Linked DNA regions of Homo sapiens. The protein of the gene in region 1 interacts with the protein of each later gene in a pairwise test. Each region holds a gene or a part of one and is shown on either strand. Other genes may lie near its edges.

Region 1 (3,749 bases):
TGGTTGTCCAGTTTGCTATGGAAATAAAAGGCATTGATTTTTTAAAAAGATGATTGGAACCTGTCTTTGGCCACATAGGGCCACTTGGATCCATTTCCAGGCCTTACTCATATATTGCCTTCACTGAAGGGCTTTGGCTTTAAGTCCCAGACTGGTCTCCCAAGTGAACCATAAGTGTTTTGGAGCTCATCTGGGGTGAGGCATGAGAATGTTGCCCCATCTATCCCTTCAGGAAAAGGTGCCTTCCCTCCCTTTCTCCTAAAGCCTGGTCCCCAGAAATTGTTTTTGTCTCCAAAAGTCTAGTATGGTCTTTATACACCCAGACTCTTAGTGTTGCGTCCTGCCTTGTTTCCTTGTTAAGGATCTATGCAGACCTCCCGCTTTGGCTTAGCTAGCGTGACATTGGCTATCATTTGACAAGACTAACTTTTTTTTTTTTTTTTTTTTGACTGAGTCTCCCTCTGTCACCTAGGCTGGAGTGCAGTGGCACAATCTTGGCTCGCTGCAACCTTCACCCTTCACCTCCCAGGTCGAAGCGATTCTCCTGCCTCAGTCTCCCGAGTAGCTGGGATTACAGGCGTGCGCCACCAAATCTGGCTATTTTTTTATTATTATTATTTTTAGTAGAGATGGGGTTTCACCATGTTGGCCAGACTGGTCTTGAACTCTTGGCCTCAAATTATCTGCCCACCTCGGCCTCCCAAAGTGCTGGGATTACAGGCATGAGCCACCATGCCCAGCTGACAAGACTAATTTTTTATCCCTTGGTTTATTGGCTTCAACATCTTCTGGAATCAGAGGTGATTTTTTCTTACCTTGGATGCCTGAGACTAGGGGAGTATAGAATTCCAATTGGTAATTAAGGCATCTTTCTGCTCCTGATCAGAAGGGCAGGTTAGTTGGGAGAGGTCAGATGGCACAACAGAAGTCACCTTGTAAGTAAGGCAAAGACTTGAAGGCATTAGCGTTTCTCATTACTAGGTCAATAACCTGAGGGAATCAATGGCTTTTTGCCGCTCTACCTCTTGTGTATCTCTTTGACTTTTCTTTCTCTGTCTAGTTTCCTCTGTTCTCAGTTTATATTCTATGTTATCAGTCTCTCTTTCCACAGTACAAACATCCATCCTTTCTCCTGTGCAATTCTGTCTCTCCCTCTTATTATCTTTATTTGTACTTTTTCCTTCCTCCCTGTCTAGGCATTGGGCATGTGCCTCTTCTTAGCCTGTGATTTTGCCTTGGGACTGATGATAAATTATTTCCAGATTCAATCAGCCCTGGTCCTACCCCAGTCCAATCAGAAGTATGTTGGTGGGAATCAACCTGATCCTGGCCCTTTCTTCTTCTCCATTTTCATTCGTAATCCCCCTCAGCAGATCTTTACAAGCAGTTTCCTTATAGCTCATGTATCTTTAGGTCTTTGCCTTCCAAGCACTGTACAGAATACTTTGTGGTTCCTTTTTAGTCTGACATTTTGTGGAGCAGTGAAGCGTGCTCAGAGACATAATCAGCTGAAGAGAAAAAATCCACCCATGGATTTATATCAGCTAAATACTAATAATTGATTTTGTTTGATGTGCCCATAATTTTTAAAGCTGCAATATAATATAATGAGGGACCACAGGTAATTTCTCCTGTCATTTGTTTTGGCTGGATGGGGGTGGGGGAGTAATTGCTTAAAGTTTTACCATTACACATTAAACTCTCTATAATAATCTTGTTTGGGGCTTGCTAACTGTTGAGCTGTTTTAACTAAACTGGTAGGCAATCGGAGTTGATTTAAATGAAAAGATAATTTAACAAATCTATACTATAAAAAGAGACATTTGCTTAATTGACATGTATTTTTTCCTTCTGAGTCACCTAAACATTTACTCTTGACACCAACTGTTCATGATACTGAATAGACAGTCCATATAAGAGAAATTAGTGGACCTAAAGAAGCCAGATTGTAGGTGTTAATTTATTAAACAGAGTGCAAAGCCCTTGGAAATGTCACTGCTTGGCAATACCATATGGAATGCCAAAATTTACAATGACTTTTCTTTATAAGTTATCCAAAAGGGATTTGAACAAGTAAGAGGTTATGCCAAAATGTCTCCAATGTATGGTCCTGTAATATATTGCAGCTTGAAGCCAATGATCCCTTATGACTTGTATACAACTAATGCATGTTTTATTGAATTTTGCATTTCCCACGTGTGGTAAGTTCTTTAAAATGTTTTTGATCACCTTTTTGTGCCATTAAACTTGTACAGAAAATGTTTTTATGGCCATTTTCAAAGGGAGAAAGTTTAAAATGGAAACAGCCCACCCTTTCTGCCCTATAGCTGTAGTTAGAATTGAGTACCTGTAGCAAAACAGCTGTAATTGGTGGTTGTAGTGTTAGAGGTGTTAGCTTGCTAGTGACTAGCTTTGGAGAGTAAATGCATGGTATTGTACATCACATTTCTTAACTCGTTTTAACCTCTGAAAAGAATATATTCTTCTTTGTAGTCCTTCTTCCCACCCCCTTGCCCTCTCCCTCTCCCTGCTCCCAGTTGTCTTACAGTTGTAAATATCTGATTTGAGGCCCAATAACTCTTGCCAAGTAAAGTCAGCAAACAACAAACAAACCAAAATGTGGGGAAAAGGCATTTCTCAACCATCTCTCAGCAGTTATTGATCATTTCTTAAGGAACAGCATTGTGATCAAAGACTCAACTTTACGTAAAAATCAGTGGTAAATTGGGGTTGTATTTGGCCATTTGATTACATTTCAGGATTGAATAGTTTTCAGAATCACATGTAATCCAAAGACAGTAGGTAGTGATGTCCCTTATCCCTGCAGCTGTTTTAAGATAGAGACCTCAGAAGACTCTGCTTGACCGATGACCAATAATTATTTGAAAAAAAAAGAAAAAATGAGAGAAATAAAACAGATATTTAAGAACTTTAGCCACCTATTTAGAATAGTTATAGCCAGAAAAAAAAACAAGGGCATGAGTTCAAATGCATTACTATCAGTGTCCTAGGCAATACCTAACCTACTCTGAAATTGTGATTCAAAAGCAGTATTTCAAGAGGCATTCTCCTTTTTTGGTTTGCTGACCCCACTTGGACTGGTAGGTTTGGTGAGGCCCCCATAAACCAGCTGGAGCAGACCCTTTTCATCTCCTGTGCCTGTAACACCCCTCTTCCCCCACCCCCTCCGCAATTCAATGAGGGCTTTCTTGGGTCAGAGGACTTCAAGGTTGTCTAGAGAAGTTTGCCATGTGTGTAAGGTGCTGTGAACTGTGAGTGCTGAAGATTCGCAGCATTCAATACCAGGCAGCCAAAGAGCTGCTCTTGCAATTATTTTGGCTCTCAAGCTCTGTTCTTCATCGCATTCTCATTTCTGTGTACATTTGCAAGATGTGTGTAATGTCATTTTCCAAAAATAAAATTTGATTTCAATATTTCTGGCTGACATTCTTTTAAAAACAAAAACAAAAACAAAAAACACTGAACCAATAATCATATAACCTCAAAATGTCCAAGCTGGCAGGGAACTTAGATATTATTTTTTCCAACCTCTTAATTTTATAGAAGAAGAAGCTGAGAGTAAATGTATGATAGAAACACCATAATTATTGGTACAGCACATTTACAAAAAATAAGATCTCAGATCTCCCCCCAGAGTTGAGCAGGAATAAAGTGACCTCCTTTTATGCATAAGATGCTTTGGCCAATGTCAGCCTGTGTCATCAGGTGGTGACTTCTAGTACCATGTT
Region 2 (3,749 bases), on another chromosome or scaffold:
ATTAAAAAAAAAGTTGAAAGCTAACATAGAATCAATACCTTGGGTTCTTTTTTCCATTTCCAAAACGAATGTGAGCCAGATTCAAGATTCTCTGTCAGCACTACACCAGGTTTTGTCAATTTCACTGAACACAAGATATTTTAAAGTCTCCAATTCGATATAATTCATGCTGAGTTCTTTAAGTACTATTTGATATCCCAGTGATTTTTTATTACTTCCACTTTGGGGACAGTCTTGTGAGTCTCTTTTGAGAGCGTTCGCTCCTAAGTCTGTAAGATGCCTTTCCTCCAAATCTTACCATTTTCAGAATTCTGCTAGAGACATATCAATTAACCAAAATCCAGCTTGCCAGCATCCTCAGCTAACTAAAAGTTATGTTTTGACACAACTTTTAGGGAAAAGGGGCAAATCTCTAGTAAACGAGTTGACTTCAGGACTCTTCAAAAAAAGAGTCTGTTTATTCAGCAAAACCCAAGGGCCCAAAACAGGTCCCCACCCAAGTAGTCTTACCTGTAAGGTCACCAAGCTGGCTGTGGTGGCCAGGTCAATCTTCCCAAATTTGATGAGATTTCCATAAGGGTTAAAAGGAAGAGTGAACGGTTTCCTTTGGCTTAGGGGCTTTTCTCTAAAATTCCTTGTCTTCTTCCCATCTGGACTTTTCCCTCTGAACTATTAGCTTACTGCCAACCACCGTCCCCACAGAAATCACAAGAGTTTAGGCAAATGAAAAGCAAGTTCTGCCCAGCCTTTTACATCTAAGCACAACAGCCCATACTAGGACAACAAATTACCAATGACTTAATGACTAAGGCACAGCATTCTCTTCAACCTCTAAAGAAAAGCCCGTAATGTCCTCTACTTAATACAAGTGAAAAATATGAGAACATGTTTTGGAATATTTTTGCTTCAATTTTTGAAGGTGAAGAGTTCCTTCTATTAATTCAAGTTAACTAGAGTCAGAAGATACTACTTAGTAATCAACTTTACTGTGCTTTCACCTAAAATTTTTCCTCCAAATTATTTAGGATTTGCCTTCTGTTCAGAAAATTAGTTTCCACAATATCCTTCACTATGCCAGAATGCTGACTGACTTAAAAAAAAATGACCATTATGAAAGGAAAAAACTAACCTTCAACACCCCTTAATTCACTGCCTTTTATTATTTACATACAAATCTGTCCTCCAAACAGGAGAAGATGGGACGGCAGTGTCTTACCACCGCATCCCCCACAGCTCCTCGCACGAAGCCTGGGAGTAGTGGGCATTCAATAAATGCCTATTAAACACTTCAGTCCTCTCATAACAAGTTGGGGCATTCCGAAACACTGGCTCCACCCCTCCAGGGTCGGCCGCTGGCTCCCGATGGCAGTCTGCCTATGGCCTTGCTCTGGTGAAATGAAACCTCGTCGCTCAAGACCCAGGATGGGGGCAAGGGAGCCGTCCGACCACATCCCGCAGGGCAGCAGATCCTCTCTTCATCCCGCCAGGCCGCTGGTCCTGAGGCCTTTCCCACCCCATTCGGGAACCTACGTCGCCAGCCGGGGATCCACAGGAGTACCAGCCCCCGCCCCACCCCGCAGACAGCCTGGCGTCGGGACACCGGGGACGCCTGCGCAGAAGAACCCGCCTGGCCCCTTGGCTCCAACGGTAACAATGCTCCCCTCCGAAAGACAGCCAGAGTAGTCCGGGGGCACCAGTACACGTCTGCGCGCTCCCCGACGCCTTGGCGCGCCCCTGGTGCTCAACCTTCCCCACGTGAGCGCGCCCGCCATCACGATACTCGCTGACGGGGTCTCCTCACCTGAGTCGGGCTCCGCCCCCCTCCTCCTCGCTGAAGGAGGCGGTGACCCCTCTCCGATCGGACTCGGCAGTGTCAGAGGAGGTGGGAACGTCCTGACCAGCGTCTCCGTTACGGGACTTCCTCCCCCTTCCACCCGCCCCCCTCCCACCCCGCCTCTAGTCCCCTAGCTCCTCCAGCCAGTTCGCCGCAGCACTCTGAGAACACGGCGGCGGCGCCCGAGGATAAGCGGAAGTGACGTAATGCAAGAGCGCCTACTCCGCCCCATTCCGCCTCTCCCAGTTGGGCTGCAACCAATCAGCAATGGGAAGGGCGGGGCCGGGGTAGGAGTGCAGCCAGCCGGCGCGCGGAACCTGGAGGAATTTACTTAGCCCCCGGAAAAACTGACCAATCCACGGTCCCTGAAGTCTGGTTGTGTTTACTACCGACTGAATCCGTGAGCTCTCTGACCAATCACCCTTTGCCTTACAACATGTAAAACGGTTATCAAATGCCTTTTAGGGCGGGATTTATCACTAAACTGCTCCAGGTTTGGACTATAGAAATGCGGCTGTTCGCTGCAACCAATCAAAACCCTCTGTGGTTTAGGCTAGCGGGCTTTCCGCCTAAATCCGCCAATCACAACAACGACTGCGTGATGTCTGAGGGCGCCGGAGAGGCGGGCCCTCAGGGCAGGCCGTACCGCCATTGGCTGGTTCTGAAGGATTTTTCCACCCTCGTGGTGCCCGGCGCTTTAGTGACCCAGGGCTCTTCTCCGGGGTGAATTCCCTTCGCTGAACACACACACACACACACACGTAGAGGGCTGGAGATTGAGTTCCCACTTCATAGACGTTGGGAAAGATAAGATTCCAAAAAGCTCTTTAGGTTTAACTAAGCCAAAGTCCAGGGTGAAAACCGCGAATAAAAAACGCTGTCCATCGGATGGCAGTTAGGTCGGACCCCGCCCCTCGTCCAGTCCGGGTGGCTGCGCGTCTGGAAACGGTGGCGCCCCAGGAGCCCGGCGCTTGGCCCCGCACTCGGCTGCAGGTCAAATAAGCCTGTAGTCTGCATGCCCAGATTTATAATCACCTGCACTCCCCCCACAAAAAAATAGGAAGCGCTAAGCTCTCCCACTCCTGTCCCAAACGTGGAAGGGTCGCGGACTTGTATGGGACGCGGTCTGAAAAAAGCGAGCCCCGGGGCGACGCTCGGGTTTCCAGGTGCACCCTCGGAGGGAGAACCCGATCCCTGAGCATCGGACACTGGGGCCAGGGAAGAAACCCCCTTTCCTAGGGTGAGGACGGCAGAAGAAAGCTGCCTTCTCCGGCGCAGCGTGTCTGGGAGCGCTGCGTGGCTCTGGAGACAAAGGCAGGCCCGCGAACTCAGCTGGGTTCTTCTGGGGGTGGGGGTAAGGGTCTTGGAGGAGCTCCCAGAAAAATGGAACTCCCAGCCGGGCGCGATGGCTCACGCCTATAATCGCAGCAATTGGGAAGGCTGAGGCGGGCAGATCGCCCGAGATCAGGAGTTCGAGACCAGCCTGGCCAACATGGTGAAACCCTGTCTCTACTAAAAGTACAAAAATTAGCCGGGCGTGGTGGTGGGCGCCCGTAATCCCAGGCAACTACTCGGGAGGCTGAGGCAGGAGAATCGCTTGAACCCGGGAGGCGGAGGTTGCAGTGAGCTGAGATCGTGCCGCTGCACTCCAGCCTAGGCAACAGAGTGAGATTTCGTCTGGGGGGAAAAAAAAGGAACTCCCCGCTTTAAGAATGGAACACACCGAATACCCCTACAGCAGATTCCATCCCTTCAGTTACTGGTCGGAAGTGTTGATTTCAAAAAGCAACCTGTTTGCGTGGATTTCTTTAAGGGCTCGGTGGAGTCTGATGTTTAATTCTTTTCCTTAAGATTCGCTGACACTATAGCCATCACACATATTTTACTGACAGATTGATCGGTAAAATAAGGAAAA

What was found. Proteins that work in one complex are often made in the same cells at the same time.
Region 2: the proteins of DCX (region 1) and ZBTB5 interact in binary tests that used the Homo sapiens proteins (3 or more experiments, as listed by UniProt).

Annotation. Positions count from the first base shown.
Region 1 is NC_000023.11:111,293,464-111,297,212, reverse strand, and holds the end of DCX (neuronal migration protein doublecortin), read left to right. Parts: 3' UTR 1-3,434; downstream 3,435-3,749. UniProt on the Homo sapiens protein: Microtubule-associated protein required for initial steps of neuronal dispersion and cortex lamination during cerebral cortex development. May act by competing with the putative neuronal protein kinase DCLK1 in binding to a target protein.
Region 2 is NC_000009.12:37,463,414-37,467,162, forward strand, and holds the start of ZBTB5 (zinc finger and BTB domain-containing protein 5), read right to left. Parts: upstream 2,038-3,749; 5' UTR 1,802-2,037; exon of another isoform or gene 511-1,801; intron 1-510. UniProt on the Homo sapiens protein: May be involved in transcriptional regulation.